Homo sapiens: one gene and its partners. The protein of the gene in region 1 purifies or fractionates together with the protein of each later gene. This does not show direct contact. Each region holds a gene or a part of one and is shown on either strand. Other genes may lie near its edges.

Evidence for each region.
Region 2: the proteins of FAM136A (region 1) and CDYL purify together in Homo sapiens (co-immunoprecipitation; 3 studies listed by BioGRID and IntAct, with this or other methods). This does not show direct contact.
Region 3: the proteins of FAM136A (region 1) and RBFOX2 purify together in Homo sapiens (affinity purification with mass spectrometry; 3 studies listed by BioGRID and IntAct, with this or other methods). This does not show direct contact.
Region 4: the proteins of FAM136A (region 1) and HCCS purify together in Homo sapiens (affinity purification with mass spectrometry; 3 studies listed by BioGRID and IntAct, with this or other methods). This does not show direct contact.

Annotation. Positions count from the first base shown.
Region 1 is NC_000002.12:70,299,061-70,306,945, forward strand, and holds the start of FAM136A (protein FAM136A), read right to left. Parts: upstream 3,008-7,885; 5' UTR 2,952-3,007; coding exon 2,544-2,951; exon of another isoform or gene 1,921-2,543; coding exon 1,780-1,920; intron 1-1,779.
Region 2 is NC_000006.12:4,933,396-4,940,418, forward strand, and holds part of CDYL (chromodomain Y-like protein), read left to right. Parts: intron 1-2,119; coding exon 2,120-2,376; intron 2,377-4,169; coding exon 4,170-4,342; intron 4,343-7,023.
Region 3 is NC_000022.11:35,808,802-35,815,824, reverse strand, and holds part of RBFOX2 (RNA binding protein fox-1 homolog 2), read left to right. Parts: intron 1-5,820; coding exon 5,821-6,045; intron 6,046-7,023. UniProt on the Homo sapiens protein: RNA-binding protein that regulates alternative splicing events by binding to 5'-UGCAUGU-3' elements. Prevents binding of U2AF2 to the 3'-splice site.
Region 4 is NC_000023.11:11,106,742-11,114,346, forward strand, and holds the start of HCCS (holocytochrome c-type synthase), read left to right. Parts: upstream 1-4,590; 5' UTR 4,591-4,777; intron 4,778-5,277; 5' UTR 5,278-5,319; coding exon 5,320-5,419; intron 5,420-7,605. UniProt on the Homo sapiens protein: Lyase that catalyzes the covalent linking of the heme group to the cytochrome C apoprotein to produce the mature functional cytochrome.

The DNA of each region.
Region 1 (7,885 bases):
TAGCTGTCAAAAAGAACACAAAGAAACCCTTTGGGGTTCCATGATCTTGAAGAAGTTATTCCTTCATAATGGCAGTAACTTTGAAGCGTTTTGAATGGAAGAATGTAAAGATGTGTCACATTATGTATAAGTTTCCATGTGGATGGAACCTCAGGCTATGAAAGGCTGGCTTGGAAGTAGGCTTGCTTCCCCCAGGTTCCAGAAAAATATACTTAGAAGATGGGAGTAAAATGAAGTTGTGGATACTCTTTGCTCCAGAGAGGGAAACAGGGAGCTCTTTTGGTAACCTCAGAGGGGCTTGTGAGCCAGGAATCAGTGAGTCAACAGTAATAATGATTCACATAAATGACTGCTCCTTAGTGACAGAGGGGCTGCCCTCTGGGTATAGCAACTAGGGGCAGTCCTGGGTGGGTGTATAAGTCCACAAAATGGTGGAAGGGTGTTCCTCGAATCTGTACCTTTTCAAGGCTATCCTACCTTTCTAGAGATTCTGCTGTTTTAAAAATAATATATGTTTTAGGAAACTTTATTTTTTTATTTTTATTTTATTTATTTTTTGAGACGGAGTCTCGCTCTGTCACCCAGGCTGGAGTGCAGTGACGTGATCTTGGCTCACTGCAAGCTCTGCCTCCCGGATTCACGCCATTCTCCTGCCTCAGCTTCCCGAGTAGCTGGGACTACAGGCGCCCACCACCACACCTGGCCAATTTTTTGTATTTTTAGTAGAGACGGGGTTTCACTGTGTTAGCCAGGATGGTCTGGATCTCCTGACCTCGTGATCTGCCTGCCTCGGCCTCCCAAAGTGCTGGGATTACAGGTGTGAGCCACCGTGCCTGAACATTATTTATTTTTTTTTGAGACGGAGTTTCGCTCTTGTTGTCCAGGCTGGAGCGCAATGGCATGCGATCTTGGCTCACTGCAACCTGCGCCTTCCAGTTTCAAGCGATTCTCCTGCCTCAGCCTCCCGAGTAGCTGGGATTACAGGCACCTGCCACCATGCCCAGATAATTTCTGTATTTTTAGTAGAGATGGGGTTTCACCATGTTGGCCAGGACGGTCTCAAACTCCTGACCTCGTGATCCACCCGCCTCGGCCTCCCAAAATGTTGGGATTACAGGCGCGAGCTACGCGTCCAGCCAGGAAACTTTATACTACACAGTATACATTCTGTATTTGGTGGTTATGTCAAAAGGAACAAACAAACGCCTCCTCCCCAACAAACTGCATAAGGGCTCTTGGTCATGAACTCCCCTGGTAACTCCCCATTACATCATTTCTTTTTTTTTGAGACAGAGTCTCGCTCTGTTGCCAGGCTGAAGTGCAGTGGCGCGATCTTGGCTCACTGCAACTACACCTCCTGGGTTCAAGAGATTCCCCTGCCTCAGCCTCCCTAGTATCTGGGACTACAGGTGCGTGCCACCACGCCTGGCTAATTTTTTGTATTTTAGTAGAGACGGGGTTTCACCATGTTGGCCAGGATGGTCTTGATCTCCTGCTCTCATGATCCACCTGCCTCAGCCTCCTAAAGTGCTGGGATTACAGGCATGAGCCTCCGCGCTCGGCCTACATCATTTCTATAGGAAATGATGTTCAACTTAAGGCACTCGACCGCCAAGACTTTTTCCAAAATTTCAAACCCTGTGAAAACTGGTTGGCCATCAGTATCACAACTGTTAACAGAACCAAGACACTAAAGCCAAGAGTTTTGAACAAATGCTTGTCATCTCCTGCAAAAGTCTGTATCAAGGACTACAGTGCTCTGTCTAGGATATTTCTCACCTGGAACTTCTCCAGCTCACTGGTGACCAAAGCCTGGGCTTGAGCCAGAGGCACATGGCAGCGCTCGATGCACTGGTGCACCTGCTTCATGGAGGCCTGGCTGTCCTCACAACAGCTGGCGCTGCACCGGAACATGAGACCCTGGGGAGAAAGGGCAGAGAGGTTAGGTAGGAAAGTCTCTGGGGACAGAGATGACTATGGAGCACTACAGGAGTTAGAAGGCCACGTGGATATTTGCACCTCTCTCTCCACCTTCTGCTTTCACCTTCCCTGAGAATAGACACCAGGACCTTAAAACCACCACTGGGGAAAATTATCCTCAATGTCTAGTGTAGTGTTTCATGGTGTCCTTGCTGCTAGCTCATCGGCACCTGTTGCACCGATGGTTGGGTGAACAGAGGTTCGCCCGAGTGGGTGAGGGTAGGGTGGTCTGACGAAGCCAAATTCTGAAAACCAGGAGCCTCTTCCATGGGGTTCAGAGGTCAGCAACCTAGCAATACAAATTCCACCAGAGGGCAGCCGACCCACTAATCAATGACTCAAGGGGCACTATCTGGGAAACGCATACTCCGTGAGAGAAGCAGGACCGAAACACACAGAGGCATTGCGGGGCTCAGAGAAGAACAGTGTAGAAACCCGCGCTGTGTGAAGCGAGGTTGGGCGCAAGAGAAGCAGGCATGACCTGGCCAACGGGGAGGCCGGAAGTCCTCGCCTTTCTGGTCTTTCACGTTGGCAGCGCCTCTGCTGGGCCTCGGGCCGCTCACCTGCGGAAGGGGCCGCGTAAGAGGGGAAGGTGGTGGGGCGAGCGCCTGCCACCAGGGGCTTCCCACCTGCCGCCGAGGACGCTCCTGCCCCGGGCTGGAAGGGGCGGAAAACAGCCTCGCGCACGGCAAGGGCACACGGATTTCATCCGATCCGCCAAAGCTTCCGAAGTCCTGTCCGAGGCCGCCCCGGCGACCCCAGGGCCGCCCACACCCGGTCTGCGGGGACGCGGCTGCAGTGCAAGGCGTCGCGTGGTGGCTGAGGGAAGGGCCCGGAACCCACCCGCTGAGAAGGGGGTCCTGGTTCGGCCCCAGCCCCGCTACCTGCATCTTCCGGATGTTCTCTCTTTCCAGACTCTTCACCATGGACTCCACCGCCTCCTGCACCCGGAGCTGCTGCAGCTCAGCCATGGCGACCCCGCGCTGCCCCGCGGCGCTCCGCGCCGGCGCCCATATGGAATCGGCGTACGGGCCCGCCCCCTCACCGCCCTTCGCCGCCCTTCGCCGCCTGCCCTTCCAGGGCCCACGCCCCCCCCTGGCGGCCGAACGGAGCCACTGCATGCTGGTGTCCGCGAGCCCACCGCCCTCCTCCCGCTTGGGAACCGGTCACTGGGACACCTGCCCTGCGGCTGCTGCCTGCCTTTCCTCCTCCCTCCCATGTCCCTCCCTTTACATTCTTTAAAATTATTTAATGTAATTTACATACAGATAAATGCCCAGATCTTAGGCGTGCTGCTTGATGAGTTTTAACAAACCCTGTCCGCCGGGCGCAGTGGCTTACGCCTGTAATCCCAGCACTTTGGGAGGCCGTGGGCAGGTGGATGACCTGAGCTCAGGAATTTGAGACCAGCCTGGCCAACCTGGCGAAACCCCGTCCCTACTAAAAATACAAAAATTAGCCGGGTGTGGTGGCACATGCCTGTAGTCCCAGCTATTTGGGAGGCTGAGGCAGGAGAATTGCTTGAACCCGGGAGGGAGAGGTTGCAGTGAGCCGAAATCACGCCATTGCACTCCAGCCTGGACGACAGAGTGAGACTCTGTCTCTAAACAACAATAAAAACCCAAACTCTGTCTTGTCCCAATCTCCGTCCTTTCTACCCCATCTCCCCACCCCTGCCCTAACTGGTCTGCTTCTGTCACTGTAGATTACATTTTCTCTTTCTAGAATGTCATATGTATGTTATTATCCAATAAGTACTCCTTTTCTGTCTGGCTTTTTTAGCATATTGCTGAAAAATACTTAGCCTAATGCTTTCGAGATTGAGCTGTGTTGTTGGTTCTTTTTTGCTGCTGAGTAGTATTCTATTGAATGGACATACCACATTTGTCGTTGTTGTTTTTTGAGACAGGGTCTTACTCTGTCACCCAGGCTGGAGTGCAGTGATGTGGTCTCGGCTCATGCAGCCTCCACCTCCCTGGTTCAAGTGATTCTCATGCCTCAGCCTCCCGAGTAGCTGGGATTACAGGCATGTGCCACCACGTCTGGCTAATTTTTTTTTTTTTTTTGTAGACACGGGGTTTCACCATGTTAGCCAAGCTGGTCTCCAACTCCTGAGCTCAAGGGATCCACACACCTCGGCCTCCCAAAGTGCTGAGATTGCAGGCATGAGGCATCGGTCCCGGCCCACATTTGTTGATCCATTCCCCTGCTGATGGGTGTTTGGGTCTTTTCCACTTAGTAGCTATTATGAATAAAGTGGTGACTATGAACATCCTTGACCATTTTTTTTTTCTTTTGGAGATGGGATCTTGCTATGTTGTCCAGGCTGGTCTCAAACTCCAGGCCTCAAGCTATCCTCCTGCCTCTGCCTATCAAAGGGATTACGGGTATGCACCACCACCCAGTCCTGGACCAAGTCTTTTGTAGACACAGATTTTCTTTTCTTTTGGGTAAATATCTAGAAATGGGATTGTTGGATCACAGGGTAGATGTATGTTTATGCATTTATTTCTCATAAAAAATGAACTTCAGAGACAAAGCAGGGGCTACAGATCATCAATGAAGCAGTCATCAATGAAGCACTTACATGCCAGCAACATGAAACTGTTTCTGAATTCCTGGAGCAGTTTTTTTTTTGGAATGCCTCACTGTCCCACCCATAACAGTACTGTCGTGTGCATTCATTTATCGAATACATTAGCTAGGGGTGCGGGTCCAGAGGGGAGTGTCAGTGGAGAAGGGAAACACACTCCGTGGAGAAGGGGAAGGGGCAGTGTTGGAAGAGGTGTGCTGGAGGAGGTGGTCCAGGCTGGCAAGGAGGGAGTGAGCCATCCGGGTTCCTCAGGAAAGTTTTCTTAGAGGAGATAAGGCTTGAATTGAGGCTTTGAATTGAATTGAAATGAGTGGGTGTTTGCTTGGCATATGGGGCTGAAGAGAAAGCCATGTCAGGCATGGGGGTGCAAGGTGGGGGTGGGGGAGGAACAAAGGAATGGGGCCGTCATTAGAATTTAACGATTTTCTGCCATTGGGCGCTAGATGGCAGGAGAACTCTAGTTTAGGGCAGTGGGGAGTTTGACTCAACCCAAGCTTCTTTGAAGAAAGCTATGTTTTGATTGGGCACGGTGGCTCACGCCTGTAATCCCAGCACTTTGGGGAGCTGAGGCAGGTGGATCACCTGAGGTCAGGAGTTCAGGAGTTTGAGACCAGCCTGGCCAACATGGTGAAACCCCATCTCTACTAAAAGCACAAAAATTAGCCGGGCGTGGTGGCAGGCACTTGTAGTCTTGGCTACTTTGGGAGGCTGAGACAGGAGAATCGCTTGAATCCGGGAGGTAGAGGTTGCAGCGAGCTGAGATCACGTCACTGCACTCCAGCTTGGGCAACAAAGTGAGACTCTGTCTCAAAAAAAATAAAATAAAAAATAAAAGCAAGCAAGCAAGCAAGCAAGCAAGCAAGCAAGCAACCAAACAAGCTGTGTTCTTCCAGCGCCAGGCCCTCTCTAGTGAGTACAAGTGTGAGTATCTCCCCATAAATCACAGTTCAGGGTCTTGAGACAGCCTGTTCACTTCAAGCTCGACTACAAGTGGCTCCCAGCAGCAGCTGGAATCAGGGCGACACCAACTATTAAATAATGTGCCAGACAGTGTTTTAAGTGCCTTCCACGGGATGATCTCATTTAATTTCCATGACAAAGCACCCTATGAGGTGGGTACTTTACTCTCCTCTCTTCTCTCACTCAGGGCAGAAAACTGAGGCCTAGGGAGATGAAACCACTTGCCAGAGATTGCACATTTATAAACTGGTGGAGCTGGAATTCCAATCCTGATGGGCTAACTCCAGACTAGAAAAAGTAGGAAATCTCTATTGTGACTGACTTAATGTTTATACTTATGTCCCATATTCCACAGAAAGTTCTTTCTTTCTTCTTTATAGCACAATCTGAAACTACTCACTTCTCCCTCTTATTCCTAAAATGCCAGACAGAACCTCTCCAACAGCTCCTACTTGTAGGAGCCAAGTTAATCATGCTAAAATGAGTTTAAAAGTCCTTGAGTAATGCAGCCTTGTTAGTTTCTATACACAAATTGAATGGTACTTTTAGTATTTACGAAAAATGATTCTTGGCTGGGGCGGTGGCTCACATCTGTAATTCCAGCACATTGGGAGGCCGAGGCGGGCAGATCACTTGGGGCTGGGAGCTTGAGACCAGCCTGGCCAACGTGGTGAAACCCCCATCTCTACTAAAAATATAAAAACATTAGCTGGGCATAGCGGCACACACCTGCAATCACAGCTACTCAGAGGCTGAGGTGGGAGAATCACTTGCACTCAGGAGGTGGAGGTTGCAGTGAGCTGAGATGGTGCCACTGCACTCCAGCATGGGTGACAGAGCGAGACTCTCCCTCAAAAAAAAAAAACAAAAAAACAAAAAAACAGAAAAAAAAAAACCCAGAAAAAAAAAAAAGAAAAATGATTCCTGACTTCCAGTTAGTTGGCTGTGGAAATCCCATGGGAGTCATGGTGGAAGCAGAGTTTAATCTCATGTTAGGAAGCTCAGATACCTGTCTGTGCTATTACCCTGGTGCTTTGAGGGTGGGAAATGAGGTTTCAGGATTATCTGGCTCAAGCCTGGGCTGACTCACTGGAAACAAGTCACAGCTCTTTCAGGATCCTGGGTAGTCAGTTCTGTCATCTTGATTCCTTTCCCACCTCTCCTGCATGCCATCCTGTGAACGCAGGCCCCGCAGTGCCAGAGACAAATGGTGGCACAAGAGGGACTAGGGCTCTTTCCTATTTTCTCATGTTCAGGATGTGGGTGAGATAAATGGGGGCCAGGAGGCCCGGGATGAGGGGAGGAAGTGAATTTTGCTAGATGCTGCTACCTTTTCTAACCCTCAGGTTAGCAATGGGTGGTAGCCAGAAACCCAGCTATGGCCAACCTTGGTTAAAGACTTCCAGATGAAACTTTATCAATCAAACTGATAATTTAGAAAGCAATTCTCATGTTATCACTTGTTTTTAAATTAATGCCAACAAGAATGAGATTGAAGTGTTATCACTCTCTAGTCATGACACTCCTTGGTCGATTATGATGCCTTGCTGGGGAAAAGAAAACTCACAAGCAAAGAACACTGTCTTCTGCAGAATGAAGAATTCAGTCAACTTTTTGGAAGTCACAAGTACTTTTTAAAAATATATTCAATTGCTGGCCGGGCATGATGACTCACGCCTGTATTCCCAGCACTTTGGGAGGCCAAGGCGGGTGGATCACTTGAGGCCAGGAGTTCGAGACCAGCCTGGCCAACATGGCGAAACCCCGCCTCTACTAAGAATACAAAAATTAGCTGGGCGTGGTGGCGAATGCCTGTAATACCAGGTACTCAGGAGGCTGAGACATGAGAATCACTTGAACCCGAGAGGCAGAGATTGCAGTGAACCGAGATCACGCCACTGCACTCCAGCCTGTGCGATAGAGACCTTGTCTCAGGTTAAAAAAAAAAAAAAAATATATATATATGTACACACACACACACCCCCCCACACAATTGCTTCAGAGCTCTCTGCCAAAAAAATACATATATATTCAAAACTTTGGTTGAATAATTATTTTATATATGTATATTATTAAATATAAAATAAAGCAAATGTTTTATGATTATAAATATCCAATTATGTAAATATCTCTTGAATCTATTCACATCTCTCTAGCTTACTGTTATCACCCTAAAGCCACTATTATTATTATTATTGCCTGGCCTACTACAGTTGATCCTGTTTAAATCTTCCTATTGTGGCTAGGTGGTGGCTCATGCCTATAATCCCAGAACTCTGGGAGGCCGAGGCAGATGGATCACTTGAAGCCAGGATTTTGAGACTGGCCTGACCAACATGGTGTAACCCCGTC
Region 2 (7,023 bases), on another chromosome or scaffold:
CCCCCAGGCTCACATGTTTAGAGTCATCCAGCATCCATTTCTCTAGACTCAGAAGGTTCCTGGCCATGTGGACTCTGGGTCCCAGTTGAATGGGTTGAAGAATGATGGACAGAGGGAGAGGTGAAGACAGCAAGTGCAGGCAGGTGAGGCCGTGATGGGACTGAGACTGGAGGAACAGATTAGAGAGGGTTCCTGAGGGGAGACGAGATTGTCAAACGTTTTTAAACAAAGATGGGAGAAGGATCTGGTAGGGTAGAGGATGGAGGTTAAAAGAAAAAGTCTTTCCTGAGTCCCTCAGAAGGACTCAGCAACACCTTTGCTGACTGGTAACATCCGACCCAGTGGTCTCCAGTTAGAACTACTCCAGGCTACAAGTCCTTTGGAAGCTTGTAGAGATTTGACAGCACTGGGATGACAGAGGTCAGGATTATGTGTCACTGTGTTGTTGGTCATATCGACAAGTCACTGAATAGTAGTGCGTATTGCAGTGTGAACTGGAAAATGAATTACAGTGCATCCCTACCTTGGGCCTCGCCTGCCACGCAGCCTTAGGAAAGAACAGGAAGCTATGTTCTGATAGAGGAGCCATTCTAAGATATTGTGGAAGGAATAACCATGAGATGTAACAATGTGTATATCTTATATATGTACAAGCAAGACAACAATGTATAAGATACAGCATCTTATACTACATCTAGTGTACTGCCATCTGTGCTTTTAAAAGCCAGGGTGGTGGAGAAGTCTGTATTGATGTTTTCTTGTATATCCATGGAGATACTCTGGAGGGGCCCCTGAGAACCCAGCCCAAGTGGCTAAGAGGGCAGGGGGATCCTGTGTAAACAGGATCAGGCTGTGGGGGGCTTTCACCTTAATATCTTTTATATTCTTAGGTTTTTGAACCATATGTATGTATTATAACCTCTTTAAATTTTTCAAAAATATAATTAAAAAAAAACCTCTAGCAATTAAAATATTATTTCCACCAGTTGAATGAAAGTCAGGTTGTTTTGCCAGGGAGGTTATTTGGCTCCTCTGAAATGTCCATTCATGAGTTTTCTGGTGGCTTTGGCTTATTCTCTTTCACTTTGGAGGAAATATTTCTGATTCATAATTCTTCATGCTCCGCCCTCAGAGAACTTCTGCCATTGCTAATGCTACTAGTAAAGTCTGATCTAGTTTTCTTACATTTCATTCCTTTTTTCCCCATCCACTCTACATTCATCACCACATTGGATCATATTTGGACAATTCATACAGACAGGAGGATAATTATTTGCATTCTTAACCAGGCACAGTGGTTCATGCCTGTACATCTCAGCTGCTTGAGAGGCCAAGGTAGGAGGATCACTTGAGGCCAGGAGTTTGAGACCAGCCTGAGCAACATAGCAAGACCCCATCTCAAGACCCTGGCAAAACACAGTTGCTGCTGTTGAGCTGTGACATACGAGGGAACGTTGGCAGGATGCTTTATGTGGTGGGGGAGAGGAGAGCTATCTTCAGCTGCTTAACAGGGCTGTTTGAAAAAGGAGTGGAACTGGAACAAGTAGATGGACTTTCTGATAGTCCCTCCCAGGGCAGCTAGAAACAACTCCTGAGTGTCCCACAGGGGTGGTGGTCTGAAGTGGTGGCTGCCACACAGCTCTATGACCCGCAGAGAAGGCTGGCTGCATCCACGTGTCTATCCAGTTTATCTTGCATTTGGAAAAAGAAGTTTCGACTAGATGGCCTTGACTCTAATAATAAGATGTTTTCTTGATTATTTTCCTTTTTTCTTTCGGCTTCTCAAACCTGGAATAGATACTCTCCATGAGACCCATTCTGTCTTGATTCTGTCCTTTAAAAAAATCTCTAACTATGTAGCTTCCTTTCAATAAGTACCTCTCCATCTGTATTTTTTAGGCAAGGTGAAACAAAAGAGTGACTTTCTTGTCAGAGCTTGAAAGAGAGCAAGTGGCTTTAAAAGTAGACTTTGGCTTTCTAAAGGTTCTAAGTTTTAATATTCTTATATTCGTTTAATCCTAAGTGTGTAATGAACATCTTTATCCAATTCAAAGATGACACCTGGGAGTGAACTGGTGGTGGGACATCACAGACTACTGTGATTTCAAACTCTCGGCAGGTACATCTCCGTTCATGGATGCATTAACAGCCAATGGGACAACCAACATACAGACATCTGTTACAGGAGTGACTGCCAGCAAAAGGAAATTTATTGACGACAGAAGAGACCAGCCTTTTGACAAGCGATTGCGTTTCAGCGTGAGGCAAACAGAAAGTGCCTACAGATACAGAGATATTGTGGTCAGGAAGCAGGATGGCTTCACCCACATCTTGTTATCCACAAAGTCCTCAGAGAATAACTCACTAAATCCAGAGGTGAGAGGCGCTCTTGGGCTGGCGTGGGCTTCGCGCTTCTCCCTGCCTGATTTCCAGGCCTGCCTGGCTGAACTGGCTCTTCCTGTGCTCTTTCTAAACCTCCTTTTGGGCCATCTCCCGATGCCCACCAGAAGGGAGGGAGCAGAGGGGAAGTTGCGGGCTTTGCTCCATGTCCCACCTCCAATGGCCGTGAATTCAGGATGCTTGGCCTGTGCTGAGTGTCCATCCCCATTCTCCCGGGTGTGGGTCCACCCAGGCCTCTGTGCCTCTGTGGTTCACCTCCTGCCTGGAAGCTCTTCATCTGGCGGGCACGGGGCTCCATGAAGGCACGTGGGAAATGTGTGTGCACGCGCTTTGCTTTAGCTTTCATCAGATCCTTAAAGGGTTCTTTGTTCAGACAGAATTTAAGTGCCCCCGGGGATCCCAGTCCCTTCAGAATATTTATCATCTTTCCAGTCCCCAGATACTCCTCAGCGGTTGTAGCAGAACACACAGCAACAGGGATTTCCACACATGCTCATTGCTGATAGTGCCTAGTAAGTAAGTTTTCCAGAACTGGTTGTTGGAAAGGTTAGAACATGAATTTTGTGAAGTTTCTAGAATCGGGAGTATTTGAACCTAACCTATATCTTTCCAAAATTTTAAGTCCTAGTAGTTTGTGAGTAGCTAGGTTGAGTTTTGTCCAGACAAGAAAACTTAACTACAGAAAGTCTGTGTGTTCGCCCGGGGTCACATAACAAACCAGTTCAAAGTTGGTCCTTGGTACATTTTTAGACTGCAGAGTCCCTTCATTGATTATTTTTAAATGCTTCACAGAGATCATTTAAAATGATTTTATGCCCTAAAATTACCAGTCCATGCTAATGTGCTTGGACTTAACGCACTTACGCACCAAACTATTTTCTGTCCCAAGTGTAATAGGGTAGTTTTTAAAACAAAACAAAACAAAAAACAGTAGAACTGAATGAGTTTCTTTCAACTGGTTTGAATGTGCCACCTGCTGTCCAAACTGGAGAAATGCCCAGTGATATAATAAGCAACTTGCCTTATCTAAGAGCCGCAATTTGCCTTATCTAAGAGCCGCAATGGCTGTATAAATACTAAGATAACGTAGATTCCCATGTCTTTTTAATTATACTCGAGTTATGTAGTTATATTTTACTCCATCCCCAGCATCTCAATCTCTGGTTACAGAAAATGAGACATTTGCAAATTAATTAAAATCATGGTAGATATCAGTAACTGTATCAGGCTATGATGCATTTTTCACAGATGCAGATTCTCCAGTAATAAAATGCTTTTAGGCAGGGTGCGGTGGCTAATGCATGTAATCCCAGCACTTTGGGAGGCCAAGGCAGGAGGATCACTTGAGCCCAGGAGTTCAAGACCATCCTAGACAACATAGCAAAACTCCATCTCTACAAAAAAAGTTGAAAAATGAGCCAGGCATGATGGCACAAGCCTATAGTCCCAGCTACTTGGGAGGCTGAGGCGGGAGGATTGTTTGAGCCCAGGAGTTCAAGACCACCCTAGACAACATAGCAAAACTCCATCTCTTACAAAAAGGTTGAAAAATGAGCCAGGCATGATAGCACAAGCCTGTAGTCCCAGCTACTTAGGAGGCGGAGGCGGGAGGATTGTTTGAGCCCAGGAGTTAGAGAGCACAGTGAGCCTTGATTAAACCACTGCACGCCAACCTGAGCAACAGAGTGAGACTCTCTCCAAAAAAAAAAATGCTTTAAGATTTTAAACCCAAAATATTCTTTGCCACTTTAACTTCTGGTGACTTTCAGGTAATGAGAGAAGTCCAGAGTGCTCTGAGCACGGCCGCTGCCGATGACAGCAAGCTGGTACTGCTCAGCGCCGTTGGCAGCGTCTTCTGTTGTGGACTTGACTTTATTTATTTTATACGACGTCTGACAGATGACAGGAAAAGAGAAAGCACTAAAATGGCAGAAGCTATCAGGTATGTAAAAATGATGTTTTTTAAACATTGGTTGGGTGTTTTGTTTTTGGTAAACCAATCCTGATAGAATGGGCCTGACCAAGCCTTGAGAATAAGATACACATCTTCTCCCATGGAGAGACACGAGCAGCAAAATTAATTAAATCATCTGTCTCTTCTATGGGCCTGCCATAAATTACTACTTGCCTTGGGCAAAATCTTTTCTATGGGCCTGCCATGAATTACTACTTGCCTTGGGCAGATAACTGATTTCAAGGTTGGTTTAAACCCTGCAAGTGTTCGGAGAATGTTCTGATGATTAGAGTAGATGATCATGGGTAGCCAGAGTTCCTATTATTTGTGCCGTGAGTATGTTCTGTCCTCAACCCCTAGATAAAGATCTCTTCCAAATAGTAAGTTACCATTTGCTCGACTCTGAAGTAAATTGTCTAGGCTTTATGATGAGATAGCTCCGTAACACCACATGGAGAGTTTTGTTTTTTGGTTTTTTTTGTTGTTTTTTTTTTTTGTTTCTTTAAATACAAGTAGTGCACATTCTTGTTCAGTTTCATCCTAAGTTCCAACTGGACAGAGAACCAGATAGTAGGAAATAAAAAGCAGAAGTCCTCCTTGTCCCTCACTCCCCTCAAGGTATCCAACATTCATTGGTGTGTCTTCCCCAACCTTTTTCTGAACATTTTGTTATAATTTTCAGTTTAATTTTTTAGACTTACTTTTAAACTCAGAAGTAAAAATTGTATATACTTATAGTGTACAACATGGTGTATTGAAACACGAATACATTGTGGAATGGTTAAATCAAGCTAATTAGCATATGCATTACCTCACATACTTACTATTTTGTGTGTGTGGTGAGAACACTTAAAATCTACTCTCAGCAATTTTCAAGTATAAAAATACATTAACTGTGGTCACCATGATGTACAATAGATGTCTTGATCTAAGCATTTTCAAATTTTTATTTCATATATACACACAAATAGTATCAATTTAGTTCTGTTGTTGCTTTGCAACTTGCTTTTTTCATGTGACAATATGACTTTGAGATATTTCTATTTCCTTGGTTGTTGGATTTTCCTCTGCTATATGATAACATATATCAGCAAAACTTTCTCTAAAACCACTTAATTCGTCTAAAATCATATCCCCTCATTTATCATGCTAATCACTCCATGTATAATTAGAAGTGTCTGATTTTTCGGAGATGAATTTTATTTAAAATGGATGAAACCTAGTCATCAACATGAAAGTTGGCTATGCTTCTCTACTCACCTCCCTAAAATGACATATCCCCAGGTGGCCCCCATAAACCCTTTGTGCTTGCCTTTTTAACTTACAGAGGATGAAAAATGAAAGAAAACGTAGACTGGCAAAATGGCAGTAAAGTAAGTTGGATCTTTTCCAAAATCCCAGATTTCTGGAGGGCTGAAGTTGAACTACTTTTGATAGTTACTAGGCTCCAGCTGAGCACTGCCCTTGGTGCACTGGGCTTTCTAGCACCTAAACCCTTCTAGAGCTTGCACAGCAGGATTGGTGTGGTGGGTAGGGGGGCTCTTTTTTCTGTTTTGTTGAGTCTGGGGTAGGCAGGGACGTCTTTCTTTGACTGACACCCAAGATGGCTCTGATGGGCACCAAACAGCCCATCACAGGAGTCCTGGAACCCACACCTCTGGGTTGAAGGGGATTGCCTTAGCCTCTCATGACATATTTAATCATTTTCAGAATTACTATATTTTCTCATATGATGTACACATGTATTTAGGAGGTTATCCCTTAATCTTTTGAATGTTACCTTTTACAGGCTATCACATTATGTGTGGTTTTTTTCAGAAGTGGTTTGAAATTTTATAGTCTGATCTTATTAAGTATTGTTTCTAATCTCCTAGGGGATTTCATCCCTGTGGTACACTAGGTGGGACCATCTTGTTCTTCAGTTTAAGATTAAACTGCTTGATCAGTGTCATAAATCCTTGGCTGACTCTCAGCGCCTCTAAGACAGCTTCATTATTATCCATTCAGGGTGAATTCCATGAACTTAACTTTTATTTTTAAAATACAAACCACCATGCCTCCTATGGTCACTTTGCATGTTCTCCATAATATCACGCTGAATGTACACATAATATTGTGCTTTTTGGTAGCTCTGCGGTCATAAGAAAATCGGATGTGTCAGCCAGTGCCTTCTGGGTCCTGGCTCCGTTTTCCCGTGTAGGCTTTTCCCTGGCTCCACTTGTGAGCCCGCTGGTGCCTCGCCGGGTGCAGCTCACTCCTCCCTCCAGCGTTGAATTCCCTTGGACAGAGGCTGTGGGCTTGTGGCGCTGGGATCAGTAAAAGCAGAGGAAAGCTAGATCCAGCCAGGTTTAAGTGGAGATCTCCTTTGTTGAACTTGATGTCACTTTAAAAGTTCACTTTCATCAGCTCCCTGCTCCGTCCACTCTCCCTACTCCACACAAAAAGCTGGATTGATATTCTTGTGAAGAGCCAAGTCCTGCTTTAGGAAAACCAACTTGTTTCTTCTTTATGTGACTATATTTTTGTCAATGTGAATTTTCCTTAATGTAGTCTGGCAAGATCAGAAAAATAATTAGTTACACCAGAGTCACTTAACCTTTCCTTTTCTTATTTGCATTTAAATTAATTTTTATGTGGATAAAAGCTCTTCCTGTGTATATTTTTCATTT
Region 3 (7,023 bases), on another chromosome or scaffold:
TACTTAAAAGTAAAAACATTTTATTTGTATTATAATCCTAGAAAATTAATTTCCATTTATAAATAGCACTAGAAAAACTATTAGTGACATTGTCAGTGGTAATAAACTGGTGAGAATATGCTCTACCAAAATAATGAAGTGATTCTTTTATGATGGTGTGAATAAAATTAATATTGATCTGTTTGTGTGCATGATCCATTCTGACCATATATGTGGTATGGGAATTGAGAAGCTTTTAGGATTTGCAGCCTGTTGATTAGAAGCAATACAATAGCAGTTTATGTATATAAGTGGGACTCAAGGTGACCAAACTGAGAAAATTAGAATGAAGTTGAGGAATAAATGAGAAGATATAAACAAAAATACACCCTTCTCTCTCAAAGATTACATAGACTTTAGTTATCCTAGAAATATGAAGACAATTATATTTTGGGTCATTTCTGTGTTCTCTTACAGTACTGTGCATAGGTTTTAAATAATATTCAGAATAATTCAGTAGGAACAGAAAATATGCTAAAGAATCAGTAACAAAACAGTTTCACCTGCTCTCTCAATTAATTTTCACACCCACCTCTGAAGTAAACAACCCATCTGGTAAGTGGTATAATTGGAATTTAAACTCAAGTCTGACTTTTAGGTTCATGCTTTCTTCTGTTTTACTACATTCCATGTAAACTGGGGAGAAGGCACATGGTTGGACCTAGAAAAAACACTGAAAGTCACCTGTCGGTAGGTGATGATTGAACCTCTGAGATTGCTGTGGGTAAGGCAATAGACTGTTGAATGGGTTCCTGTTTGACGACTGTAATACTATAGTTGTCTGTCCATAGCCACGGGTTCTGCATCTGTGGATTCAAGTAGCTGCGGATTGAAAAATTAGGGTGGGAAATTGGATGACTGTGTCTGTACTAAACATGTACAGACATTGTTTCTTTTTAGGAGACAGGGTCTCCCATTGCCCAGGTTGGTCTCAAACTCCTGAGCTCAAGAGATCCTCCCTCCTTGGCCTCCCAAAGCATTAGGATTACAGCTGTGAGCCACTGGCCTGACCAGACTCTTTTTTCTTGACACTTTTTTCTTTTCTTTTCTTTTTTTTTTTTTTTTTTTTTTTTTTGAGACAGGGTTCCACTCTGTCGCCCAGGCTGGAATGCAGTGCCATAATCATAGCTCGCCACAGCCTCTATCTCCCAAGCTCAAGTGATCCTCTTGTCTCAGCCTCCTGAGCAACTGGGACTACAGGCACATGCTACCATGCCCAGCTAATTTTTAAAAATTTTTTGTGGAGACAGGATCCCACTATGTTGCCTAGGTTGGTCTCAAACTCCTGGGCTCAAGTGATCCTCCCTCCTCAGCCTCCCAAAGATCTGGAATTACAGGCATGAGCCACCATGCAGGGCCTTGTCATTATTTTCTAAACACTACAGCATAACAACTATTTACATAACATTTACATTGTACTAGGTATTATAAGTAATATAGAGATGATTTAAAGTACACAAGAGGATGTGTGTAAGTAGGTTATATGCAAATACTATGCCATTTTATATAAAGGGCTTGAGTATCCAAGGATTTTGGCATCTGTGGTGGGCGGGGGCTGGGAGGTTCCTGGAACCAATTACCTGCAGATATGAAGGGACAACTGTATGTTTGAATTCAGAATGAAAACATTTAGCATATTTCACATTGTACACCAAAAGGCTGTATATAATATGTATCGCCTCTGTTACTATCTGTGGTTTAAAAGAGAAAGACATCATTCTCAACTCAGAAATTAATAGTTACATTTGATTTTCACTCACAGCTGGTCAACAACTCTTAAAGCCTGTGTTTGTAAGACAGAAGGAAATTAAGTGCATAAAGCACAAGCATGTAAATGTTGATTCTTTGCTTTCCTAATGCTTCCCCACTTCTACTTTCCCATCCCTGCACTCCAGTTTGATATCAACCCAAGATACCAACACTTGTTTCACTCTGTGTTATCCCTTGTTATGCTCTCTAGCCCAACAAAGCAGTTTGCTGTAATGTGCACACACCTGACTTTCTATCTCAGTCTTCCTCTATTTCATAAATGTTTAACACTTCATATTTATTATGTACGATGTGGGATTCTACATTGTACAGGACTGTCTCCACCCATCATAATGAGCCTTTTAATCTAATAGGGGAGTTAAAATACATATTTACGTTTGCTAAGTATGAGGCTTTAGATTTCAATGTCTTATAGGGGATGCAAGCTAAATGTTATAAGAATATAGGAAAGGAAGGAATTACTTTTAACTGGAAACAGAAGAAAGTTTATAAATTGCTAGGTTAGGGAAAAGAGCTATTCTGTCTAGCCTTGTGGACTAAAGAGAAAGCTAGTAATTTCTTTTCTCAGATGAGATATACTTAAGCAGCTTAGCCTCTGGTAATAGAAACAAAACATTTTTATATAAGTATAGAGGTAAATTCATACCTAGAAATACTCATGTGAACTGTTATCTCATAGTTTGCTGAAGGCTGTTGTACTTCTCTTCTGAGCATAGAACTTTGGAATATGGCCTGGAAATTTAATACAAATCTGAAACCATTTGACATTTTTAATAATGTATACTTGGGGAAATATTCAGACATTGCATGCTATATGAGAGAAAATGTTAAATCACTCCTATCCCAATTTCATTCCCTTAATATATAAACAATTGTTGTTACATTTTTAACAAAAATTTTAAAAGAAATTTCTGTAAGTAACAAAATAATCCACTAAGAATTTCTTCTTGACCTCTTAAGGGAGGTACATAACCCCTCTAGGAAAACAGAGCCTCTGCCTGGCTTGCATTTCTGTAAAACGCCTAGTGCCTAGGCTACAAGTGGATTGCAGGAAATGTTTTTACCTTTCTCCCCATCTCCCACTGCTAATTGATGTGTTTATTCAGTTATCTGAGTCAGCCCTGTTGAGAATAACGCTGTGAGAGAATTCATACTGTGTACTTGTGTGCCAGAGTCTCATTCCCAGCAGGCTGGGGTGGAGAATGGAGGCTGGAGTAAAACGAGGAGGCTGAAAGGAGCAGTGTCAGAGCAGGAGAAAGTCGCCTTGGCCTTGTTAATCCTAACTTGAAAACTCTATCTTTTAGCTTTTACCAATTATTTAGTAGAACTTTCTTATGGATTCCTGTGAGATTATATTTATGCCTGATGTGGGCATAAGACCTTTGGTGCTCTTATTGTGTTTCATTCACCAGTCCACCTGAATTCCAATTCAATTCTTTTTCATGTCTGTCTTCAGGCCAGTAGATTCAGCGAGGGCTTCTGAAGCAGTATGTTTCATATGGCTAGAGAGAGACAGAGAGATAGAGCATTGAATAATTTGAAGGGGAAGGGAGATAACTATTTTATATCTCTCGTCAGATGCCCAGAATAGCTATAAAGACATCATAAAAACTATCCTAACCTAGAAATAACGTAAAGAAGTTATATGGTGATGGGTGACGAAGATAGACTTTTTCCAAAAAAATTTAAAGTTTTCATAACATATTTTCTAAGAACTAAAGAGAGGGGTTTTTTTTTTTTTCTATCTTTTGAGATGGAGTCTCACTCACTCTGTTGCCCGGGCTAGAGTTTAATGGCAGCGATGTCAGTTCACTGCAATGTCCTCCTCCTGAGTTCAAGCGATTCTCCTGCCTCAGCTTCCAAGATATCTGAGATTAAAGGCATTTGGCACCATGCTTGGCTAATTTTTGTATTTTTAATAGGGATGGAGTTTCACCATGTTGGCCAGGCTGGTATTGAACTCCTGACCTCAAGTGATCTGCCCGCCTCAGCCTCACAAGGTGCTGGGATTACAGAAGTGAGCCACCACACCCAGCCTTTTTTTTTTTTTTTTTTCCCTTAAGAGACGTGGTCTTTCTGTTGCCCAGGCTAGGGTGATGCAATCATGGCTCACTGCAGCCTCCAGCTCCTGGGCTCAAGCAGTCCTCCTTTCTCAGCCTCACAAGTAGCTGGGACTACACATACCACCATGCCCAGCTAATTTTTTAAAGTTTTTCTAGAGACAGGGTCTCTTTGTGTTGGCCAGGCTGATCTTGAACTCCTAGCCGCAGGCAGTCCTCCCATCTCAGCCTCCCAAAGTGCTGGGATTACAAGGGCATGAACCATTATGTCCAATAGCAGGAAAATTTTTATGTAAAGCAATTTATTTTTATTTTTATTATTAATTTCTGTTACAGAATCTTCATTCCTGCCTTTACCAGTTTGCAAGGGCTGCCATAAGAAAGTATTACATAACAATATAGCAATGTATTTTCTTACCATTCTGGAGGCTAGAAGTGCAAGATCAGGGTGTCAGCAGGGTTGGTTTCTTCTGATGTCTTTTTTGTTGGCTTGTAGATGGTCATGCTCTGTGTCTTCACATGGGCCTCCCTCTGTATGTGTCTGTATCCACATTCCCTTTTCTTATAAGGACACCACTCCAATTGGATTAAGGCCCACCCTCATGACATCACTTTAATTACCTTTTTAAAGACCTTATCTTTAAAAACAGTGACATTTTGAGGTACTGAGGGTTAGAACTTCAACATACGGGTTGGAGACTGAGCACAACTCAGTCTATGACTCTGCCCCTTCCCACTGATAACTGTAATCAGTTCATCACTTTTTATCTAGACTGTGGCAGCCCCCCACCCCCAATTCTCTGCCTTTTTTCTTTCACCACTATTGTGTAAAGCAGTTTTTATTACCAAGTAGAAATGATTCTTGGACATTGGAGACAGCTGAATTTTGAAGTTGTTTAACTTTTAAATGGAAGAGAGTTATGAATTTTTGTTTCAAGGTAGGTCACTACCATTCTCTTAAGAGTAACACAGTAATTCAGTGTTTCAGAATATTGGCTTCCCCTTATTGATGATATATTTTTTGTCATTCTCTTTAGTATTAAAAACAATATATTTGTATAGGTTTTATTACAAAAGTAATATATGTTTATTATTGGGGCACAAGGAAACTTTTGGGGGTTTTGGATATATGTGTTGACTATCTTGATTGTGGTGATGATTTCATGAGAATATAAGTGCATATATCAAAACTTACCAAATTGTATACTGTAAATAAATAAGTGCTGTTTATCATATGACAGTTATATCATAATAAAACTGCTTAATTTTTTTGCTGATTTGATGACTAAAGACTTGGACTTACTTTGATGTTAATGTGAATTTTCGTGACAGTTAGTGAGGTTGAGCATTTTTATTAGTTGTTTGTATTTCATTTTCAATGAATTGTTCAGATACACAGTTTGCCTGTTTTTCTCTTGGGATGTGTGTGTGTTTGTGTGTACATGTGTGTCTGTCTTGTCAACTTGGTTAACCCACTCTGGGACTAGTGATAATAACCCAGCATCTCTCTTACCTTTTGCTAATATTTTCTCCTAGTTGATTTTTCTTTTTTGTTTTTCGTATTTTTTAGGGACAGAGTCTCTCTCTGTGGTATAGGCTGTAGTGGCTTGTGGTCCAAAGTGGGCTCTCCACCTACTTTTAATTTAAAGGAAAGATTTTTGCCCCTTTGGCATCTAGTCCACTTAAATATGGTTGTGGGCCTGTCTAGTAACTACACATTAACAAAAGTGAGTGTGTGTGTGTGTGTGTGTGTGTGTGTGTGTGTGTCTGTCCACATACATATATCTATGTGTGTATGTGTAATAATATTTTCTCCAATCCTGGAGCAATAAGCATTCCATTTTACCTATGCAGTGAGAGAATATTCAGAGAATTCCATATACTCACTTTAAAAATAGTTACGTAACAAGGATTCAAAGTCACTTTTTCTTTCTCTTGTTGTTTGTTTTAGGGTAACCAGGAGCCGACAACAACTCCTGACGCAATGGTTCAGCCTTTTACTACCATCCCATTTCCACCACCTCCGCAGAATGGAATTCCCACAGAGTATGGGGTGCCACACACTCAAGACTATGCCGGCCAGACCGGTGAGCATAACCTGACACTCTACGGAAGTACGCAAGCCCACGGGGAGCAGAGCAGCAACTCACCCAGCACACAAAATGGATCTCTTACGGTACGTGGACCATGAGGTGAAAAATGGAAGGATGCATGGCAATCATATAGAAATTGTCGCCTTAATTATACAATTAGAAGACTCTCGGAATTAATTTAGCATTTACACCTGTTCTCATTTACACCTTCTCTCAACAGCATTGTATACATTGTCCTCCCTCCTCCTAGAAATACTTAGTCTCTTGGCTTTTCGAGCTCTCCCAATTTTCCTGCCAAGCACTGGGTGTTCTGCTCCTGCCTCCTTCTCTGTTCAACTTTTAAATGGTGCAGTACTCCATATGTAGGTCCTGGAACCCCTTTTCTTTTTATTTTATATCCTTTCTCTGCATAATTATACTACCAAACTCAAGCAAAACCTAGGAATATTCTTTCTTTCTTTCTTTCATCTGTACATCTAATTGATTAGCAAGTCTTGACAACCATAACTCTAAAACTACTTCGTCTTCTTCTCTACATCTTATTACTCTTCCACCAAATTGCTTGTGTTTGAATCTCAATATGGCCCCTACTAAACTGTGTGACCTTGGACCAGTTATTTAATCTCTCTGCCCTTGGCTCACTCTAAAATGAAGATAATAGTACCTACCTGAAGAGGCTGTTAGGAAATTTAAAAGAATTTATCATCATCACTGCTCTAGTCCAAACCTCATCACTTATTTCCGGTATTACTGTTGCCTAACTTATCTATCCTCCACATAGGACTAAGGTGGTTTTTTTTTTTTTTTAATGCAAATGCCGATTTCCTACTTAACTCTTAATAGTTCCCTAATGCAATTAGAATATAATCTGAACTCCGTACTTGGTTTACTAGTCTCTAGCCCCAGCTTACCTCTTTGACTTCACCTCTTACTACTAACTTGCTAAAGTAAAGGAAATGTCATAAATTAATAATAGGTATATATCTCATACATACCAACATATGGGAAATTGTATTGTCTCTTGCTTTGTTGTCCAGGCTGGAGTGCAGTGGCATGAACAT
Region 4 (7,605 bases), on another chromosome or scaffold:
CTTTAAGGAAAAGTAGTGTTTATTTCCAAGAGCAAGAGGTAACCCTGGCCTTTGATGTAGACACGGTCCCTCTGAGTACACATGTGATGAATGCTGGCAGACTCCATGGAACACAGACCTATTGGTGGGGGGTCTACTGGCTATGTCTTAGGAACTTACCTTCATTCATTTAGGCCTTAGCAAAGATCACAGTCTATGAAGTTCATGGGCAGTGCTGGCACAGAACCAAGTGAAGGTCTCCAGGCATAACTAGAAAGTGGTGAAGAGCAAAGTTGAGAAAAACAAGCTATCTCTATTGTCAGATCAAATAATTCTTCTTTTTAAAAACCCTTCCATGGCTTCACATTTCAATTAAAAGAAAATGTCACTTCCTCCTCATGGCCTATGGCATGATCCAGCCCCAACATCACCTCCTACTATTCTGCCCCCAACTCATTCTGTGTGGGCCACACTGGTCTTTCCCTGTTCTTTCTGATCTCAGAACATTTTACCATGGCATTCTCATTGTCTGGACCACTCTTTGCATTGATCTTCACATGGCTGGGTCCTTCTCAACATTCAGGTCTCAGCTAAAACGTCACCCTTCTCAGAGAGGTCTTTGCTGACAACCATATCTGAGAAGGTATCCTGAGCTCTCAATCTGTATCGTGCACACTGATCATCTGGGGATCATGTTACAAGACAGACTTTGACTCAGTGGTTCTGGGGAGGGACTTGAAATTCTGCATTTCTAACAAGCTCCCGAGGAATACAAATTTTCTGCTCCACAGATCATCTACCCACAGGGGTGGGTAGACCCCCATGCCTCAATCTTTGTCACACTACCTGTGTCATTTAATTGGTGGCTTTTATCAGGATCTTAAATTATTTATTTATCTGTTTGTGTTGGATTGTTTGTTGTCCAATCTATTCATTTACTAGAATGTAAATTCCCTGAGAGCAAGGAGTCTGTCTAGCACTTTTAAATTCTCAGCACTTCCCACAGTACCTGACACATCATAGGTGCTCCATAAATATTGCTGAATGAGTGAAACATCACTCATTCAAGATTCATTGACTCTGTGATCCCTTCCAGTGTCTGCTTCTGACTGCTTCAGTGAGCACTCAATTATACAACAGAAACTACACTGTAATGATAGGGCAGTGCTACCCAAGTGCCAGTCCAGAAACTGCTAGTTATTGGCCAACACTGAATTAAGAATCTTGTACTATAATATAAATCTGCTATGCCACTAAGCACAATTTTATCTGAGATGAGACATTTTTCATAGTAAGACTTTCTGGATGAGGCAAGCAATGCTTTGCCTTGCCTTGTGGTGAAAGCTCCTCATCTCATATTAGAAGGGTAACAGTGTGTGAACTGGTCCCCACTGGCAAGACACATTTTGAGTTGTGCTGATATAGCGGATATAAAGCCAAATAAGATCTATTTTTTAACTTCAGAAAATCCATACATAGGTAAGAGAATTACACATTCAAATACATAACTGCAAATCTTTTGTCAAGTGCTATAATACGGAATTAAGTGGAAGAACTCAGGAATTGTAGAAAAAAACAAATAATTGGTCTTTTGTGCTCCCCCTTAGTCACACCTTTCCTGACACCTGCTCTCATTATAACCACAAACCCTCCCACCATACCCCTTCCTCCTGATCACATACCACTCATCTGGGCATGTTCTTCCCCTTGGGCCCTGAAACACTGAAGTTACAGGACCAGGCTTGGGTCTTCTGAGAAATTGTGAAAGGGAACTGAGAATTGTGGTAGAGAACAGAAAATGATAGGAGAGATAGGGAATTGTGGGAGAAGGGAGAATTGCGGGAGAGAATAAAGTATCATGAGAGAACAGAGAATTGTGAGAGACAATGTGGAATTGGGAGACAGACTAGGCAGCTGTGAAAGAGAACAGAATATTGTGTAATAAGGGAGAAGTGCAAGAGTGGAGAATTGTGAGACAGAGCAAAGAATTGTAGGAGATACGAGGAATTATGGGAAAGACAAGGAATTATGGGAAAGAACAGAGACTTGTAGGTGAGACAGGGAATTGTGGGAGATAATAAAGAAAGGGGGAAGACATCAGGAATTGTAGGAAAAAACAGAGAATTGTGGGAGTGACACAAAATTGTGGACACACGGGGAATTGTGGGAGAGAAGGGAGAATTATGAAAGAGAAGAGATTATTGTGGGAGAGATGGGAAATTGTGTAAGAGAATAGAGTATTGTGAGAGAACAGAATGATGAGGGAGACTAAGGAGTTAGGGGAGAGACTACAGAATTGCAAATGAGGATGGAGAATTTTAAGAGAATGGAGGACTGTGAGTGAAAGTGAAGAATTATCAGAGAGAAGAAAGAATTAGGAGAGAGATGTGGAATTATGAGAAAGACAGGAAATTGTAGCATATGACACAGAATTGTGGGAGAGAGCAGAATTGTGGGAGAGACATAGATTTGTGGAGAGGACAGCACAAAGAATTGTGGGAGAGACACAGGATTGTGGGAGAGAACAAAAAATTGTGGAAGAGACACAAAATTGTGGGAGAAAAGGGACACTTGTGGGATAGAAAATTGTGAACGAGAATATTGTGAGAAAACAGAATTATGAGAGAGAATGGGAGTTAGGGGAGAGACTGGGGAATTGTGAACAATCATGGAGTATTTTGAGGGAATGGAGAATTGTAAGAGTGGAGAATTCTGCGAAAGAACAAAGAATTGTGGGGGAGATGGGGAATTATAGGAAAGATAGGAAATTGTAGCATAGAATACAGAATTATGGTTGAGATAAGGAATTGTGGGAGAGAACAGAGAATTGTGAGAGGAAACCAAAAATTGTGGGGAGAAACATGGAATTATGGGAGACACAGGGAATTGTGGGAGAACAGAGAACTCAGGGAGAGACAGGAAATTGGGGGAGAGAACAGAGAGTTCTGGGAGATACAGGGAACCATGGGAGAGAATACAGTGTTGTGGGAGAGACGGAATAATTATGAGAATGAAGGGAGAATTGTGGGAGAAAGGAAATCATGAAAAAGAATATTGTGAAAGAACAGAATTATGAGAGATAATGGGGAATTATGGGAGAGACTGGGGAATAAGAACAGAGTATTGTGAATGAACAGAACATTGTGGAAATGAATAATTTTGAGGAATTGTGACAGACAGAGTCATAGGGAATGATGGAAAAGACAGAGAACTGTGGGAGGAATGGAACTGTGGGAAACAGAATTTTGAGAGATACAAGAATTTGTAGGAAAGAATAAAGGCTTGCTGGGAAACCCAGCAAATTTTGGGAAAAACAACAGAATTACGGGCAAGACAGGGAATTGTGGGACAGAAAAGTGAATTGTGGGAGACACAAGGAATCATGGGAGAAACAAGAGAATTGTGAGCAAGACAAGGAATTGTGGGACAGAAAAATGAATTGTGGGAAGGAATAGAATTTTGGGAGTGACATGGGATTGTGGGAGAAATAAGGAATTGTGGGAGAGACAGAAGATTGTGGAAAGAACTGAGAATTGTGGGAGACAGAACTGTGGGTAACAAAACAGAATTGCGGGAGTGAAAAGGAATTGTGGGAGGGACAAAAGAATTGTGGGTAAAGAGAGAAGTTGAGCTGTGATAGTTGAAATGGAATCCTTGGGCTATCCTGTAGGCAGTTCTGATGCTGGGATGGCCCTTCTGAGTTGTCCCCTTTGGGGCTAGGGGCCTGGACTTATGTGCCCTTGCAGAGACCCTCATAGGATGCAGATCGTCCCCAAGGAGGGGAAGTGATTTTGTGTGAGGCAATTCTCTTAGGCAGAGGACAATTCCTGGAGACTCAGCTGAAAGCTGTGAGCCCCCAACACTTTCTGCACCAGGGGACATCTGGACGTATTTCACAGAGCCACTATAGTTATATAGAAAGATATATGTTTCTTTATTAACACTTTAAGTAACAAGATCAAATTACCTTAATTTCAAAGTAGTGGATGGATGATATTTTGAGACAGGCACAACAACCATATGTGACATAATTTATCTGTAATGTGTATTAGTGCCACATACAGCTAATAGTACTAGGATTTATTGCCTACATCCCTGATGGAAGAAAATGCTAAATTTCTGTTGGAGGTAAATGAAAATACAGACATTCAAAATCACATACCCAGTTAAGAAGAATTTAGCAGCCAGAACACTGTCTTGTTCACTTTTGGATCTCCACCACCGAAGTTATGGGCACCTACTAACGTTTCTTGAATCATTGCTACAATTAAAACCGATAAGATTTAAAAAAAAAACAAATTTAAAAACTCCTCCAAAGCACTCCTTCTGCCGCATAAAGCATACATAGTAGAGCTCTTCACTCTAGGGAAGCCTCTGGAGCAGACAACCTTCCCTGCCACCGCCACATTTTGAAAAAGGCTCCTGGCCTGGAGGGGCGGGCCCAGAAAGCGGCCCCCGCAGCAGTTACAGGCCGGGGCGAGGAGGGGACGGAACCCGCTCTCCGTGATTGACGGAAAATATTACTCTTCAGCCCGCCTCCCGCGTGCCCGGAAGTCCCGCCTTCTAAAAAGGAAGTAGGGGTGCGTGAGAACGCCGGCGGTGACCGCAGCCACAGCGGTGACCGAGTGAGAGGAAGGCGGCGGCGGCGGCGGCGGCGGCGTGAAGTCACTGCTGCTCTGGGTTCGGGTTGGCGACTGAAGGCGGTACCGGCCTCCCGGAACAGCCCGGGGGAGGGCTTAGGTGCAGAAGGGCAGGCTGGCCGCGGCCGGTTTGGTCTGGGGACCACGGGCTGGAGCAGGTGGGCAAGCGCCGGGACGGTGTGGGGAAGACACTTGGCAGCTTCTCGACCTCTGGTGTCCCTTCGTTTCTTCGAATTCCTATTCATGCGCCGCACCCTTCTCGGACCCCCAGCCCCTCGCTAAGGCTCTGGGGATGGGGGTCAAGTCTAGGCTCAATGGACCTCCCCTCCTCCACCCGGGTCACCACTCCTCGGAAATCCTCGCCCCACTCCCGCCTCAGGCCTGTACCTCCTGGCTGTGACGTGGTTTCTCAGCGACTGCCTCACCTCAGTCCCAAAATCCTCACTGCCTTAGATACATACGTGCCCCCAGAGGTTGGCCTGGGTTTCACAGTATTTCCCTAAGGGGGCAATATATTAAAGCTGTCCTTCGAAGTTAGTACCCTGCCTGGTAGATGCCCATGGGATGACAAAGAGGAGGAACAAGGGTTGACCAGATTAGGACTAACGAGAGAATAGTCTGAGTCCAGAGACATTAATCTGTCTCTTTGTTTTGGCAGGTGGAAATTTAAAATTGTTTACAGTCAACACTGTTTCCAGCCATGGGTTTGTCTCCATCTGCTCCTGCTGTTGCAGTTCAGGCCTCAAATGCTTCAGCGTCCCCACCTTCAGGATGCCCGATGCATGAAGGGAAAATGAAAGGTAATCGGCCCTTTGCCTAGAAAATAAAAACAAAAGATAATTCACGGCTGGGTGCGGTGGTTCACGCCTGTGACAGCACTTTGGGAGGCCGAGGTGGGTGGATTGCTTGAGCTCAGGACTTCGAGACCAGCCTGGGCAACATGGCAAAAACCTCCCTCTACAAAAAAATACAAACATTAGCCAGACGTGCTGGTGGGTGCCCGTAGTACCAGCGACTTTGGAGGTTGAGGTGGGTAGGATCGCCTGGGAGGCCAAGGTTGCAGTGAGCCAAGATTGTGCCACTGCACTCCAGCCTGGGTGACAGAGTGAGACTGTGTCTTAAAAAAAGTCTGGAAAGCCTCTAAAGGAAGAGGCAGTGTAGTATGCTGCTGAGGCTGGTAGGCATGGGAGTCAGGCACCCTGGGTCTGGTCGTTATTTTGCGTCTTATTGAGGTTTGTGACTCTAAACAAGTTAACTCTGTTAGCCTCAGTCTGTCATCTGTAAGATGAAGATATAATAATGTTTCACAGGCCTGTCATGATGATTGAGGTAGTACATGAGAACGTAGTGAGTACTCTAAACCAGCCCCAACTTCCCAAAGTTTACTTGTGCCTACATCAGTGGTTCTTAACTGGAGGGGGGCAATCCCCCCTTCCCACAGGGGACATTTGCCAATATCTGGAGGCATTTTTGGTTGTCACAACTGAGAGGAAAGTGAATAGAGGGCAGGAGTGCTCCTAAACATCCTACAATGTACAGAACAGCCCCCCAACAAAGAATCAGCTGGCCCCAAATATCAAGAGGGCCAAGGTTGAGAAACCTTAGTCTAGATCTAGCTGTCTTAATAAATAACTTTTGCTCGTATAGCCATTTCAGTATTTTCGTATATAAAAGTAAGCCATCACTTAACGGGCTTGCTGTCCATTCTTTAGATAAGAAAATGAAAATGGAAAAGCTGTCTTTCATTTTTAATTCATTCATGTCTACTTTAGATTTTTTATATTAAAGTGTGGCTTGAATCAGTAAGTCGTGAAGGGCAGAAGCAACATGGTGTGCTTACTGAGTACTAATGTTTGCGCTGTTATTCATTTCTTCAGTCAGCCAGCCTATTCTGAGAGGTCACTGCCCATTCTGTACCAAGCATTGCTGGATTTTGTTTGTTTCTGCACGAGAGAATAACATCATACAAAATGGAGCTTTGCCTGATAGAGCTTACATTCTCATCTTCATAAGCTATGTGGTCTTACGACTTCATAAGCTAAGTTTTCTCCCTATTTTATAGTCAAGGAAACTAAGACTTGGAGTAACTGATGCTCCAAGTCACATAGTAAGTGGCAAAGCCAGCAAAAGTTCTGTGACCTTGGACAAGGACAGGCAGTGTTCTTCTGGGGTTTCTTTGTACAGGAAGAATTGAGACAGATCAGCCAAAGCAGGTGTGCTCCTGTTCTGAGTGTCCTCAGGGAGATTCTAGAACCCTTACTTTGGTTTTATTTCATTTGCTGTATATCTTGGAGAGCTGCCAGACTTACTACATTAATAAAGAATGTGGGTGTCTATAGGAGATCGAAGGGGCTACTGGTTATATGACGTGAAAAGTTGAAATGTTATTTTCTTTGTAACACCCAGCTGGGATCTATGACTTGGAAAGGATTGGTGCTTTCAGTGGTAGAGAGGAAAGGCATAGCAAGTCTTCCTTCACCCCTAAAGTGGGCAGTGGCACAGGGCACCAGGAAATGAGGGCTTGGGAGGAGAAGTGCAGGGAAGGAAGTGAAAGCAAACTCAGCTTTTTCATGTGTATTGCTGTAGTTGCTGCTGCTGCTGCCTGAGGCCAAGATTCCATTACATGAGCAGCTGTCTTCTGTGTCTCAGCTCTCCAAGTGCCTGCTCATTCTCTGAACCAGTTTCCCAGTCCCTCACTAATTGGGATCAGCATCCTGGGTCTTTGGGCATAGCCCTTGCTATTGCTCATCTCATTAGGCTCAGACCTTCCCTCGTAATGGGCATCTTGATCCTGTATGGGTTGTGGAATATTTTCTTTATTGTCTGTCTTTTCCTGTTAAACTCTTGCCATTGACTGATGGGAATAGGCCATAGGCCACGTGGTTTTCCTGTGCCTTGTTTCAGTCTTGAGACAAAGCAGAGTGGCATTCAGATTTTTTTGCAGTAGCCTCTGTGATGTCTCCTCTGTTCATTTTCTCCTCCCCTT